2 separate regions of the Homo sapiens genome follow, and region 1 is linked to region 2. A link means that fine-mapping ties the variant in region 2 to the expression of a gene that starts in the linked region. Tissue or cell type: whole blood. Region 2 holds a variant in brackets; the other region holds the start of a gene. All regions are shown on one strand. Distances are between the middles of the regions.

What was found. PIP is the estimated chance that this variant, and not a neighbour inherited with it, causes the effect.
Region 1: it holds the start of RPS6KA5, and the variant in region 2 is fine-mapped to the expression of RPS6KA5 in whole blood (INTERVAL, PIP 0.98).

Annotation. Positions count from the first base shown.
Region 1 is chr14:91,057,569-91,065,666 of GRCh38, forward strand. It overlaps RPS6KA5 (ribosomal protein S6 kinase A5), which reads right to left and starts at 3,073. Exons shown (of 17, transcript NM_004755.4): 1 at 2,764-3,073. The coding sequence starts at 2,866. It also overlaps a transcript of DGLUCY not described here. RefSeq lists silencers at 2,526-2,595, 2,666-2,795, 3,166-3,225, 3,446-3,575 and enhancers at 2,803-3,383, 5,798-5,947.
Region 2 is chr14:90,925,613-90,933,716 of GRCh38, forward strand. All of the region lies in intron 5 of RPS6KA5 (ribosomal protein S6 kinase A5), which reads right to left. Among named protein-coding and RNA genes, the nearest start is that of LINC02321, 100 kb to the left of the region's middle. The variant T/A (reference allele first, on the strand shown) is at 4,957.

The DNA of each region.
Region 1 (8,098 bases), 130 kb after region 2:
AGCAGCCGCAAAGATTATGGCGAATTTACACTCTACATGAGAAGACTGGACATATACAGAAAAAGATAACAGCCAGGCAATGTGACATAGGCTAAACACTAAATGAGTGATTTGTTTCCCAAATTACACTGGATTAATTCACACACTTCAAGATAAGATACTATTATGGAATGATTTTTATATATACATTCAACCAACATTTCCTAAGGGCCCACTATATGCCAAGCAACCCGCTTAGCACTTTTCCAACAGTGTCTCATTCAATTCTCACATTTTATAGATTAAAGATGTGAATCTGAAAGGGTGAAGTGACTTGCCGATGTCTACATATTAAGCTGCAGAGACGGGATTTAGAATCATGTCTTCCAACTCCATGTCCTTTCATGGGACGTTTTTTGCTTTTTCATTCATCCTATGGAATACAATAAAGTGTTCTGCACAAATGAGCCACCACCAACTGCCAGCCTGATATAACTAGATGCTTATCTACATTCTGAGACGGGACCATATCAGATCAAATTACTCTGGTGCCTATTATAGATCATGTGCTGAAAGAAGTGCAGTTGGCTGAAGATGAGCAACTCTTTCAAGTTATATTTTAACAGTGTTTTTGACCACTATATCCGGTCAGTTGTTCCAGTGTTCAGTAATAAATCAAAATGATTGTTCGTTTCCTTTGACAGTTAACAGTACTAATGAATTCAGTATAATCTCACCATCCATCAGAAAAATTTCTAAAATGCGAACTTGAAGCTGATGATTCACACAGTTAGAAGAGAGGGGGAAATAAAGCAGTACTCATTGTTTTCTACAAAACTAGCATTGTTTGCAAAATCCAGAAACCAAGCAGTTGGTTAACTACTAATAACAAGCAGGTTGCTCCTTGGTCATTTAGCAAAAAGCTGCTTGTTGCACCACAGTCGATGGCTGAGAAGCATATGACTTCAAGTAGCTTTTGCTGTACAGTAGGATTCCATACATATAAATCAGTGGATCGTTATGTAAGACAAGAAAAAAATTCAAAATCTTCACACCAGAAAGCACCTGACACTGAGTGTGGCACAAATCCGAATAAATGTATACTGAGTAAACCATGTCAGGGTCTTTTGAAAATATCAGTTGTCTATGAAATTGAGAGAAGAAAAACCAAATCACCTGAATTCATACAGGTTATGTTAGGAACTCAAAAATATGGAACAGCTGGCTCAAGATGTATAACAGATTCACAATGACCAAAAAAACAATGTTTACAAATGTTGAATTAAGAAGCATGAATTTGACATCTCTCTTGAATTAAGTCACCACACTGGCACCCAATGGAATGCTTATAGGCAATCTCAGTAGAAATAACAAAAACTGAAAGAACTGACGGACAGAGCTAACTTTCCAATCTGTTCAAAACAGAAACAAGATGTACTAGTGGACACCTGAATCCTGCCGTTTAAGCTTTTGTGCCTTCACAATTAAATAATAACCCGGCCGGGCACGGTGGCTCACGCCTGTAATCCCAGCACTTTGGGAGGCCGAGGCGGGCGGATCACTTGAGGTCGGGAGTTCGCGACCAGCCTGACCAACGTGGAGAGGACCGCCCCCCCCACCCCGCCCCCACAAAAAATACAAAATTAGCCGGGCATGGTGGCGCATGCCTGTAATCCTAGCTACTCCGGAGGCTGAGGCAGGAGAATCGCTTGAACCCGGGAGGCGGAGGCTGCGGTGAGCCGAGATCATGCCACTGCACTCCAGCCTGAGCAACAAGAGCGAAACTCTGTCTGAAAAAAAAAAAAAAAAATCCCAATATGCCAAAGCAGCTCTGTCAAAAACCTTCAACGCTCACAAACATATCTAGTAATAACGAACGACTCATTAAAATGTACTATCTGTTCAGAGAAAAAAGTATTAATATATCTACAATACGAGACTGGGCTCCAAGAATATAAATCCAAATTGTACTGATTGGTCTGAATAAGCATTTTCCAAAATGAACAACCTGAACCTACACCACGAATACATTTAATTAGTTATAAAGCTTAGGACAACGCTAGTGATCTCAAACATTAGAACGTAAGCGCTGAAGCCTGCTCGTTAGTTCCTTTTACCTGGAGCTTTAAATTTCTAAAGCCATCATCTCCAGGGACCTCTGAAGGAAATTCAAGGCCAAGTATAGTATTTCATGATAAGTGAGAATAAAGGCACTCAATCCCTGGAGCCGGCGATTCCTGTTCCTGTCTCTAGACTGGACTCGGTAAAAGCCCGAGGCGAAACCTCCCGTTTATCTCCTACAGGACCCCAGCACCTTAGGGGATGGCTCCACAGAGCCCCACCGGGACCCCCCATCGCGGGGACCAGAGGGGCGGAGGAGGGAGACACTCTCCAAAACAAAGCGCCGCTCGCCCCACGCGGAGGCAGGCGCACCTTTCGCCCTGACAGGACGCAGACACACGTGTGTCACCTGTGCGGGAAGGGGGAGCAGCGACATCCTCGGAGGTGCGTGCCACGGGCAGCGGTCGGCGGCTGCGCTGGCCCCGATGCCTGGTGCCCGCCGCTCATTCCCGGGCTGGGGAAAACTTTCGGCCGCCTCCCCCAAGGCGCGCCCCCACCTCCCGGGACCCCCGGGGCACGCGCCCCGACCGCGACGCCCCGCCCCAGGCCCGCCCCTCCGCGCCCACGGCTGCGGCCCCGCGCCCCCAGCCCCGCGCGGGCACCCGCGTGCCCTCAGGCGCGCCCCCGCGCCGGGCCCGGCCGGCAGAGGGCGGGGTCGCTCACCAGTCCGCAGCTCGTGCTTGACAGTGAGGAGCTGCTCTCCTCCGTCGCCGCCGTCCGCGCTGGTCCCCGCGGCGCCGCCGCTGCTGCCACCCTCCTCCTCCATCTTCTCCTTTTTTTCCGATCCCGCGGGTCGCTACGAGGGGAACCCAGGAGACAGCGGACGCCCGTCCCCTCGCAGCCGCTGCCGCGGCCCCAGGAGTCGGGGTGCGGCGGCTCCAGAACTCGGACGCAAAGACGAGTCTCTTTCCCGCTCTGGCCGCACGGCTCGCTCCTCGCCTCCTCCCCCTTCGGCGGGCACCGCTAGTACCGCGCAACCAAACCGCCCCCTGCTCCACCGCCGCCTCCTCAGGCCGCTCCGCCCACAGCCAGCAAGGTAAGGGAGCCATTCGAGCCGCCTTCGCTGATTGGACACAGGGCGCGCGCGTCTGCCAACGCCGGTTCCCATTGGGCAGTACGCTGTGACGTTTCACGAGCCTCCCCGCCTCGCTCCTCGAATTGTTGTTGCTTGGCGGGGAGGCAGGAGAGGGAGGAGCGCCGCCACTCCGATTGGTGAGACCCAAAGCTCTGCCCCGCCCATTTCCTCTGGTGCGCACTCGCAGTCAAGACCTTCCCTTCCCTGACCTCCCCAGAACGGTCACACCCCTTATTCCCCAGCTTCGATCTGTTAGTAAACAGTGTCTAGTAGTCAGGAGGCGCTCGGGGTCTCTGATTGGCTACTGCCGAAAGAGGCGGGGAGGGATGATTGGAACGTTTGGTCCGCCAATCACCGTGGACAGAGGAGGGGCCTGGAGGGTAGCGCTTATCACCCACGTGTTTGCAGACAAACCTAAGGGTCCCGGCAGCGATCCATGCGTGTGTGACAACCAGCGAGACGGCGTGCCCTAAAAAGGTCTTACTCGCTCTAGTGAACCCTAAACAAGTTAAGCAGAGTGTTTGTTCTTAAATAACAGATAGTTCTTAAACGTTACAAAAATTCACAGTCCCAGCTCCCGATGAGGAATTTTACGAAGGAGAGACATTTCTGTTTCGTACAAGACTCTTACTAGGCGCCGAAAGGATGCAGAGATTAACAAAATAGAATACAATTCCTCCCCTAAGCAGCTTTCAATAGAACGTGAGAAACAATCTGTGTGTGTACACAAAAGAACTATAAAGCAGAATTTGAAATAAAGCAGTCGTACAAAGCGTTAGAGAATCTCGCACGGATGGCAATAATTATTCCCAGACGAGGAACTGGGGAAAGCTTTTAGGGCAAGGAGGCATTTGAGATAACCAACGTAAAGGATGGATAAGAGAGAAATACCAGCAATAGACATTCCACACAGAGAGAGTAACTGTGAGCATTGGCCTACAGCAGAGAAGGCAAGGGTGGGTTAAGTGATTGATAAGGTTAGATGAAAGTATGATGTAAGAGATACAGCTGACAAGGTGAGGTGTGGTAAGATAATGGGGAACTAGGGATGCTGTGCTGAAGAGTGCAGATTTTTTTTAGTACACAGTGATGAACTGAAAAGAGGAGAGAGATAGCAGGGCAGGAATCCTGCTGCAAGGATAGAACTAAAGGGAACCTGATTTCTAGTAGCAGACACGAGAATGGGAAAAAGCAGAAACTTAAAGATGTACAGTTGGACGTAATTCAGATAGATGTGATCTTTTAAACTAAGCATGGATTGGATCAGGAGTCAGCACACTTTTTTCTATTAAGGGCCAGATAGTAAATATTTTAGGATTTGCAAGCTGTATGACCTTTTTCACAACTACTCAGCTCTGCCATTGTAGCGCAAAAGCAGTCATAGACAATAAATAAAAGAAGTAGCTGTGTTCCAATAGAATATTTTTTATGGACATTGAAATTTGAATTTCACATAGTTTTCATGTATCGTAATATATTCTTCTTTTAATTATTTTTGAATCACTTAAAAATATAAAAACAGGTCAGGCGCAGTGGTTCACACCTGTAAGCCCAGCACTGTGGGAGGCTGAGGCAGATGGATCACCTGAGGTCAGGAGTTCAAGACCAGCCTGGCCAACATGGCAAAACCCTGAATCTACTAAAAATACAAAAAATTAGCCAGGCATGGTGGTGGGCGCCTGTAATCCCAGCTACTCAGGAAGCTGAGGCAGGAGAATTGCTTGAATCTGGCAGGCGGAGGTTGCAGTAAGCCGAGATCACACCATTGCACTTCAGCCTGGGCAACAGAGCGAGACTCTGTCTAAAAAAAAAAAAATATATATATATATATATATATATATATATATATATATATATATATATATATAAACAATCCTTAGCTCAAGGGCAGTTAAAAAACAGGCAATGAGCCAGATTTGGCCTACAGGCCATAGTTTGCAGACTCCTGGATTCGACTGCTGTGAAAGACAAAACACAGAAGCCTTGCAAGTTCCTTCAGGTTGCTTTCACAGCTCCCTGGGCTTACCTGCCTGGAACATTTATCATCACACTAAACCATGACTGCCTACTTACTTGTCTTTCTCCTGCAAAAGTCATGTGCTATTTGGAGCCAGGCAATGACTGTGTGCAACTGTTCATTTGTTCACTCGAAAACTTTTATACCAGTTATATACCAAGTACTGTAATAGGTGCTAGAGACACAGTGGGAGCAAAACAGATGCAGTCCTTGCTCCTATAGAGCCTACAGTCTAGCAACAGATATAAATATTAATCACATAAAGAAATATAAACTTTCCATTGTGATCATGCTGTAAAGGAAAATTACAGGGTGCTACAATAGAATGTATCAGGGATGCCTAATTTAAGTTGGAGGAGCTGGAAGACCTTTGTAAGTAAGTATTATTTAAGCTGAGACTTTAAAAATGAGTAGGTTTTAACCAGGATGTGGCAAAAAGTAGCCTGATGTTCACCAATCTCATTTCCTCTTCCTAGACACACAGGAAGACTTTTTTTTTTTTTTTCTTACCTCCTTTGCAGTTAGGTTAGGGTCATATGACTATGATCTGGCCAATGGGGTATGGGCAGATCCTATTGGTATGATATATAACATTTTCAGGCCTGACCAGAAAACTCCTTGCATAATCACTCACACTCTTCTCTTTCAACTGCTGTAACAAAGGCCACATTTTTAATGTGGGTATGCCACAGACTGGGAGGACTCTGAACCCCTGAGTTTCCACTTAATTCTTTAAGGAGCCACCTGACCTATGTCAGACTGTGATGTGAGCAATACATACACCGTTTTAGGCATAAGCTAGTTAGATGGGATTATTTGCTACCAAAGCATAATCTAGCCTTATACTACTTCATATGTGTAATATGGAGGGATCAAAATTTTAGGAAGATGTCCTGAGGCAGGCAAAGAGCCTATTCGGTTGAGAGATTGAGAAAGGCAGTGGAGCCTTAATGCAGTAAGCAAGGGATGAGGTTCAGGAGGTGGGCAGAGGCCCGGTCAGGAAGTATGTGGTTGCTCTTATTAATATTTTTGGACTTTATCCTGTGTGAAGTGGGAAGCAGTAGAAGGAATTTAAACACAGGAATGATATAATCGTGGTAGTATTTTCAGAAGGTCACTGAAGTTAGTGTTTGGAGACTGCGCTGGAGAAGGCAAAATGGGATACAAGGAGACCAGTTAGGAGGCTATCACTGTAATCTGGGCAAAAGATGAGAGTGGGTGCAGTAGAGATGGAGAGAAATGGAACATTTCTATGTTTATATTTTGAACTTGAAGGATTAGACTTGGTTAGTGAGAAAAATGGAAATATCTGAAATGACACCAGTGTTTCTAGCGTGAGCAGCTAGTGGCTGGAAGAGGATGGCAGTACCATTTAATAATGAAAGGGACAAATTAAAGGAAGAGCACATATGAGAGAGAACATCAAGAGTTTAATTTTGAGACATCCAGGGCCAAAATTAAGTAGCTATGTGGATATATGAGTCTAGAGCTCTGAAGAGAGGTCTAGCATAGGGATGTAAGCTTAGGAATCACTGGCACATAGATGACATTTGAGGCCAGAGGTACGAATGAGATTACCTAGGGAGAAGCCTGGGTGCGGTGGATCATGCCTGTAATCTCAGCACTTTGGGACGCTGAGATGGGCAGATCGCTTGAATTCAAGACCAGCCTGGTCAACAAGGTGAAACCCTATCTCTACTAAAAATACAAAAATTAGCTGGGCATGGTGGTGCATGCCTATAATCCAAGCTACTCGGGAGGCTGAGGCAGGAAAATCACTGGAACCCAGGAGGCAGAGGTTGCAGTGAGCTGAGATCGCATCACTGCACTCCAGCCTGGGTGACACAGTCAGACTCTGTCTCAAAAAAAAAAAAAAAAAAAAAGAAAAGAAAAGTTGGAATAAGAAGGTGGAGCTAGAGGTAGAAAAGGAAAACCTGGAGAGTTTTGTATCTTGGAAGCCAAAGTATTTCCAGAAGAAGGGAATGGTCAGCTGTATCAGATACCCTAAGATGTCATATAACATGAGGTCTAGAAAGATCCACTGAATTTGTCAACTTGGGTACCACTGATGACAATATCCAGAGCAGTTTTGGCAAGGCAAATGGAAGGTGAGGAAGTAGTAACCATGTGTGGGGACATATTTTTCTCCAAAGGAAAATAGAGAACAAAGATCCTAGCTGGAGGGATCCAGGGAGTTTTTCGGTTTTTTGGCTTTTAATCTTATTTTCAAATAATTTTAAAATTGCAGAAGAGTTGCAAAACTTAGTAAACTTAGTAAAGCAGAAGCACGCCATATGATCACTTAAATGTGCACACATGTAGGAAGAGTTTCTTCCACAGACTTAAGCACTGTGCTGAGTGATAGGAGGGAGGGGAGGGCATGGGTTAGGGATCTGAGGAGAGTGGAAACAGGTTGGAACAGCCACTATGAGAAATAGATCTATCCAGGCAGCTTGTATAAACGCTGATTAGCACAGGGCTCCAGTGGAGTTAGAAAGCCTGAATCAGGATAGTGAAGTGTCTTTCTCTAGCAACTTACATATCCCCTCTGGGTGGGAGATGAGCGGTTGGGCAACAACCTGGTTAAAGTGAATGACCCTGGGGCCTAAGCTGGGTGAGAAGGCAATGAAGCCAGGATAAGCTGCTAGCCTGGAAGAATAGGATGGAGTCCAAGGAGTTGGCGCTAGTATGGATGAGTTCTCAACCTTGGCTGAACATCGGGATCACCTGGGATACTGAAAAATAACAACAAAACAAAACAAAAATCTCCACCACTCCTACCCCTAAAGAATGTGACTTAAATTGGTCTGGGGTTGGGCCTGGACTTTGGGATTTTTTTTAAAGCTCCCCACATCATTAACCTAATGTACAACCAAGTTTGTAATGCACAACTCTTGCACAACTAT
Region 2 (8,104 bases):
TATTACTAAATAAGTGAACTAGACTCCACAGACACAACAAACTGAAGGATTACTTGAAACAGTAGAAAAATAATCTGTAAATGACCAGCATGTTGTAAAAGATAAAAGACATAAAATAAGACAGCCTGGGCAAGATGGTGAAACCCTGTCTCTACAAAAAAATTAAAAAAAAAAAAAACCTAGCAGGGCATAGTGGCGCATGCCTGTAGTCCCAGCTACTTGGGAGACTGAGCCAAGAGGAATCACCTGAGAGCAGGAGATCGAGGCTGCAGTGAGCCATGATCGCACCACTGCACTCCAGCCTCGGTGATAGAGTGAGACCCTGACTCAAAAAAAAAAAAAAAAAAAAAGAAAAGAAAAGAAGAAAAAGAATCAAATAGAGCTGTGCAAATAAAGAAACGAGGCAATAAAAAAGGCAGACTAAACGTATTAGACACAGCTGAAGAAAGACAGTAAATTAGAGGATACTTTTGCAACATTCTGGATAATCTTCTCAAGACTTAGTAAAATTGCTGGGCATGGTGGCTCACACCTGTAATCCCAGCACTCTGGGAGGCTAAGGTGAGCGGATCACTTGAGGTCAGGAGTTCGAGAACAGCCTGGCCAACATAGCTCAAATCCTGTCTCTACTAAAAATGCATGGTGGCACGTGCCTGTAGTCCCAGCTATTCAGGAGGCTGAGGCAGGAGAACTGCTTGAACCTGGGAGGTGGAGGTTGCAGTGAGCAGAGATCGCACCATTCAACTCCAACCTGGGCCACAGAGTGAGACTCTGTCTCAAAAAAAAAAAACAAAAAAAAAGACTTAGTAAAATTTACTAAAGACTTAGTAAATTTGAGAAAATTATCCAGAATATTGCAAAAGTCCTAAGCAGATTAAATAAAAATATATTCCTGATTGGCCACATTCTATTTCTTCACTTGAGTGGTGGTTACAAGGGTGCTGTCTTATAATAATTCACTGAGCCATACATTTATTTTGTTTTTGAATCTGTTTTACTTTACAATAAAAAGAGAGACATATATATGTATGTGTATATATATATATATTTAAGTGTGTGTGTGTGTGTGTGTGTGTGTGTGTGTACATATCTCACAGGTCCATTCCTAGATCTATTTATACCCAGCAGCTAAGTTATCAGTTAATATGCAGGGCAAAATAAAGCATTTTAAGACAAAGACAGAATTTATTAATCATTGAACCTTGCTAAAAAGAAATCTAACGTATGTATTTCATAAATTAATAAATTGAACTTGAAAGAAAAAACTCAGATGCAAGAAGCAAGAATAAGCAGAGAAAACAAATGTGTAAGTAAATATAAACAAGCACTGAATTTATAAAATAAAAGTAATAACTGCACAGTAATGATTGATTTGTGGAAATTTAGCAGGTAGGACTAAAATACTAAATAATATAAAAATTAGATAAATAACTGAAGTTGAAGCATTCTAACGTTCTTGTAGTGGTCATGATCGTTTGAGAGATAATGGATAATTTCAGACTCTGTTAAGTCAGAGCACAAGTCTAAAATCAGGGTAATATTACAGAAATGCCTTGTGTATAAAAATAGATAAGTAAATAAAATCAGGGTAATAACTACTAAAAGAACAGAAATAGAATATACATGACTTCCAGACCATTAGGCGGACATGAAATCAAAAGATCTTAATCATTTAAATAGAAGACAGGAAAAAGGGAAAACAGAAGCAAAGAGAAACACAAAGCAAGATAAGAGAAATAAATAAAAATATATCAGTAATCATAATATACAGGTATCATAACTCACCAGTTAAAAGACAGAAACTCTCGATCAAAAAATAAAATCCAGCTATATGTTATTTATAAAAGGCACACCTAAAACATAATGACAAAGAAAGATTGAAAGTAAAGAGATGAAAAAAGTTGTATCAGACAGCACTAACCAACAGAAAGCTGGAGTATCTTTATTAATAGGAGGAGAAATGAACTTTAAGGCAAAAGAATTATTAAAATTACGTACATTACAAAATAATAAAAGGAACATTTCACTAGGGAAATAACTCTATTCCAAGCTTGAATATCCTCAAAAATTTGTGAAAAGCTTTAAAAATATATAAAATAAAAATGGAGAGATCTTCAAGGAGAAATGGACAAATCCACAATCATCATGGGTATTTTAACATATGTTTCTTATAACTGACAGATCAAGAAGGAAAAATATTAGTAAAGATATTCAAGATTTGAATGATATTCATGAAAATATACAAAATCCTGTATCCATCAATTAGAGAATACACACATAGTCTTTCAGGCATATGTCTTTTTTCTCTTTCTTTCTTTTCTTTTCTTTTTTTTTTTTTTTTGAGACAAGGTCTCATTCTGTCATCCAGGCTGGAGTGTAGTGGTGTGATCACAGCTCACTGCAGTTTTGACTTCCCAGGCTCAAGTGATCCTCTTGCCTCAGCCTCCCAAGTAGCTGGGCTCTTGCTACCACGCCTGGCTAATTTTTGTACTTTTTGTAGAGAGACGCAGTTTTGCTATGTTGTCCAGGCTCCTGAGCTCAAGTGATTCGCCCGCCTCAGACTCTTAAAGTGCTTGGATATAGGTATGAGCCACCACTCAAAGAAAAAGTGACAATAAATATTACAGTAACAATAAAAATACTATATATAAGAACTTGTGGGATGCAGCTAGAGCTATTTTTAAAAATTCACAGCTTTATTTTAAAAAGATTAAATATTAGTGAGCTGGATGTCCAAATTAAAAGCTTAGAAAAAGAATATGAAAGAAGCTTATAGAAAGTAAAATGCACAAAATAATAAACCTCATCAAAGAAAGAGAAGAAAAATAGAAGGCTTGACAAAAGCTCTTTCTTATAAAAGACTAATAAAATGGACACTTCTAACAAAGGATCAAGAAAAGTAACAAATGAATAATATCAGTAATTTAAAATAAAACATTACTATAGTTACAGAGATTTTTAAAAGTAAGGAAATTCTGAAGAAACTGATGTCAAAGAATTTAAAAAGATAATACCATTTTCTATAAAAATGTTAACATTCAAGAAGAAATAAAAACTCTAAATATACTTGTAAATATTTTAAAAATTAAATCAGTATTTGAAAAGCTACTTGCACTCACTTAAAATGAAAAAAAAAAAAAAAGGAAAAAAACACACTCTGGCAGATTTGAAAGTGAATCCACACAAACCTTTAGAAGAAATGTACTTTATCTTACATAAACCATTCTAAATCCATTTCATGGTGCTAGGACAACCTTGATACTAAAATGTGACAAATGCAATTTTATACAGGAAAATTATAGGTCAACTTAGAAAATAAAATCCTAAGTAAAATATTAGCAAATAAAATCCAGCAATGTATAAAAAATACATATCATGGAAAGTTAAGTTTGTTCCAGGAATTGAAAGATGGTCTAACACTGAAAAAGGAAACAAAAATCTATTCATATAATTCACATCATTATGTGGTTAAAGAGAAAAACCATAAGAATTTACTTATAACAATAAAGATACTAAAAATATAATTTATCTACCAAAAACCTACAGCAAATACCATACTAAATGACTAAAATACATGTTCTTTAATGTAAAAAATACATATACACATAAAACTTGGTAGACAAATCAATAAAACCAAGCCAAACCTAAACAAAATAACCATCCCCAAACACACAGAAACTAAAAGGTATGAGAAATGAAAAGAAACAAAGCCATTATTACTTACAAATAATGGTTCTGACTTTTTTCTTTTTAATGTAGTCATCTATACAAAAATCCAAGTCAATCTATAAATTTGTGCACCTAATAAGAATTCAATGTTTTATGTATAAGGTCAACAGCATTCCTAAGCTCTGGCAAGAAAAACATAAATATTCCAGTTTTTAAAGGTAATTCTTATAATTGAAACAAAATGTATAAATAGAAATAAGTCTAATAATATATGTATAAAATATTACAGATAATAGTACAAAATATTTTTGAAAGACATAAAAAACTAAATAAATGAGAAGATCTGAACATTCACTGATGCAAATTCATTGACTGGAAGGGTCAATATTCAAAAATTGCAGTTCCCTCCAAATTAATTTATATATTCGATTCCACAATTCATGTGGAGGAACACAAAAAGCCAAGAATAGAGAAGACAGTGAAGAGGGAGGACGAAGGTCGGGGGAAAGGAGAGGGAGGTAGGGTGAGGGTGAAGAGGAAAAAGATCTCACCTTTTCAGAATCAAGACTTACTATAAAATGATAGGCTTTTTTTTCTTTTCTTTTTTGAGATAAAGTCTTGCTCTGTTGTCTAGGCTGGAGTGCAGTGGCATGATCGCAGCTCACTGCAACCTCAAATTCCTGGGTTCAAGTGAACCTTCTGCCTCAGCTTCCCGAGCAGCTGGGACTAAAGGCATGCACCAACACACTCAACTAATTTTTTAAATATTTTGTAGAGATGAATTCTTGCTATATTGCCCAGGCTGGTCTTGAACTCTTGGCCTCAAGCGATCCTCCTACCTCAGCTTCCCAAAGTGCTGAGATTACAGGCGTGAGCCACCACGCCCGGCCAGCCAGATGCTTTAAGATATTTTGGTTCTGATACAGAGCGAGGCAAACAGACAAATGGAATTCAATGAAGAGCCTAAAAACAGACTCGTAAGTATGCTTGGGAACTTAGTTATATGACAGAAGTTGCATTTCGAATAAGAAGAGAAAAGATTAACTGACTAGTCAACAAATACTTAAAAGGTAATTGGGTTATTTGTATTAAAAATATAAAATATTTCCACCTGATTTTATACCCTAAATGTAAGACCTAGAACTGTAAAAATCCTGGAAGAAAATACATGGGAAAAGCTTCATGACATTGGATCTGGCAACGATTTCTTAGATATGACACCAAAAGCACAGACAACAAAAGCAAAAATAGACAAATGGGACTATATCAAATTTAAAAACTTCTGAA[T/A]ATCGAAGGAAAGAAACAGAATGAAAGGCAACCTACAGAATGGGAGAAAATATTTGCAAATCATATATCTGATAAGGAGTTAATATCTAGAATATATAAAGAACTCCTAAAAACAACAAAACCCACAAATAACCTGATTTTAAAATGAGCAAAGGACTCTAATAGACATTTCTCCAAAGATAACATACAAATGGTTAACAGCATATGAAAAGATGCTCAACATCACTAATGATTAGAGATAAACGCGAATCAGAATTACAATGAGATTTCACCTTACACTCATTAGGACAGCCACTATAATAACAAAAACACCAACATAACAAGTGTTGGCAAAGATACGGAGAACCTGGAACTTTTTAGCACTGCTGGTGAGAATGTAAAATGGTGCAGCTGCTATGGAAAATAGTATAAATGTTCCTCAAAAAATTAAAAGTAGAACTACCATATGATCTAGCAATCCCCCTTGTGGGTATATATCCAAAAGAATTGAAGGCAGGCCTCTTGAAGAAATATTTGCACAACCACGTTCACTGTATTATTCACAATAGCCAAGAGGTGAGAGCAATCCAAATGTCCATCAACAGATAAACGAATAAACAAAATGTGGCATATAAATACCATGGAATATTATTCAGCCTTAATAAAGAAGGAAATCTTGTCACATGCTACAGCATGCATGAACCTTGAGAACTATGCTAAGTGAAATAGTCACAAAAATAAAATAAATACTGTACAACTCCACTGACATGGGATATCATAAGTAGTCAAACTCACAGAAATAGAAAGTAGAATGGTGGCTGCTGGGGGTTAGGGGACGGGGGAAAAGGTATAGAGTTTTAATTTTGCAAGATGAAAAAGTGCTAGAGATCTGTTACATAACAAAATGAGTATTATTAAAGCTGCTGAACCATATATTCACAAACAGTTAAGATGGCAATTTTTGTTTTGTGTTTTTTTAACCACAATTAAAATTTTTTTAAAATTAAAAAAATAAGCCGTAAAAGAAAAGATTTAGTACATTGGATATTAAAATGTTAAATGGCAAAAAAGATCATTAAACAAAATTAAAAACAAGTTAAAATTTTAGAAAAGAAATTTACAAAACATATAGTTATAAAGGGTTGGTATCTATAATACTTAACGAACTCCAACAAATCAATAACATCAGGGGAAAAAATGCAACACTGTGATAGAGAAAACATAGAAACAACCTAAATGTACCTCAGTAGGAGAAAAGATAGACTGGATAACTAATATAAAGGATTATTACACAACAGTTAAAATAAATGAAACATCCCATTTATCAGCTTGGATAAATTTCAAGAATAGGTCAAATAAAAAACAATTTGCAATAGAATATGTCATGTATGTACATTTAAAAAACATGGTAATAGTATATATTGTTTACGGATATACACACATGAAGTAAGGGTACTAAAACACAATTAAAATTAATCCACCACATACTCTTTACCTGCACCAGTGCAGCTACACATTGTTGGAGAAAACCATATAATCAGGTTGGCCGATTTTATTCAATCATTCAATCATTCATTCATTCATTCATTCATTTGAGACAGGGTCTCATTCTGTCACCCAGGCTGGAGTGCAGTGGCATGATCTTGGCTCACTGCATCCTCTGCCTCCCGGATTCAAGCAATCCTCCCAGCTCAGCCTCCCAAGTAGCTAGGAATACAGGCACGTGCCACCATGCTCGGCTAATTTTTTTATTTTTTTATAGGAATGAGGTCTCACTGTTGCCCAACACTGTTCCCCAGGCTGTTGAGTCTCAAACTCCTGGGCTCAAGTGATCCTCCTACCTCGGCCTCCCAAAGTGCTGGGATTACAGGCATCAGCCCAGGCAATTTCACTTTAAATTCATGATCAGGAATCTCACATGGGTCTTAATAGTACCCAGCAAACACATTCATTTCCCTAATCCGTTCACTCTCCCACATTGTTAGTTGGTTATTTTATATCATCTCCTTTCTCCTAAAACCTCGATGTGTCCACTCCCTTCCTCATACTCAGTGAGAAAACAGAAGACCTTCTATAAGCTGCCAGTACACACCACTTAACCTCCACCCACATGTGTGCCTAGTAACTCAACTTTCTTCAGTTTCTAAGCATGAACTGACCATGCTACTCGTTAAGCACTAGTAGCATGATCACGCACAAACTCACTTGTGCGTTTGACATTATCCTTCTCAAGGACAGTGTTCCAGCAATTTCCCACTTTACCTGCTGTATTATTATAGGAGATAGATATCTGGGTTTGGGTGGTAGATATCAGTGTATCTACCCCACTTCCTTTTGAGGACTATTCTAACTAGTGTATGACATCTGTAATTTCTCCCATCTTAGGGGAAAAAACCCTCTTTTCATCCTCACTTCATCCTCTGCTATGCTCTTCACAGAATTTCACTATTCCTTTTAACAGAAAACCCCAAGTTGTCTACATATGTGGAAGACAATAAGGCTACTGCTATTCTCTTTCCTAAGGTTAAAACTGAGCCAATCAATGCTCAATCTTCAGTCCCCATCTTATTTAACCTAACAATAGCATTTGACACAGTTAATCATTTTCAACCTTGAAACATTTTTTCACTTGTCTTCTGAGACAATCCACCTTGTTTTCCAAATTCCAAATTCATAGATCCAGACCAGACTTCTCTCCCAAATTCCAGACTCATATAGCTCACTGCTTAACATCTCTGCTGTGTGTCTAATAAATGTCTCAAACTTAACCTGTCCAGCTGAACTTCTCCTCTTGTAACCCCAGATAGCTCCCCATCAGCAGCCTACCCCATATTAGTTGATGGAAATTTCATCCTTCCAGCTGTTCTGGCCAAAAACCTTGGGGCCACACTAGATTTCTTCTGAATTCTCATACCCCACATCTAACTCATCAAAAAATTCCATTAGATCTAATGTCAAAATAGTCCTAAAATCTGCTACTCCATAGTCTAGGCCAGTTCCATCTCTTGCTGGGATTACTTCAACAGTTTTCTATCTGGACCTCATGTTTCCACACTTGTCCCACTACAGGATTATCACAGTTATCAACCAGAATTATTCTTCCAAAATAGGAGATCACTACTCTTCTACTCAAAACTCCCCAGTGGCTCCCCATTTTGTGCAGGGAAGA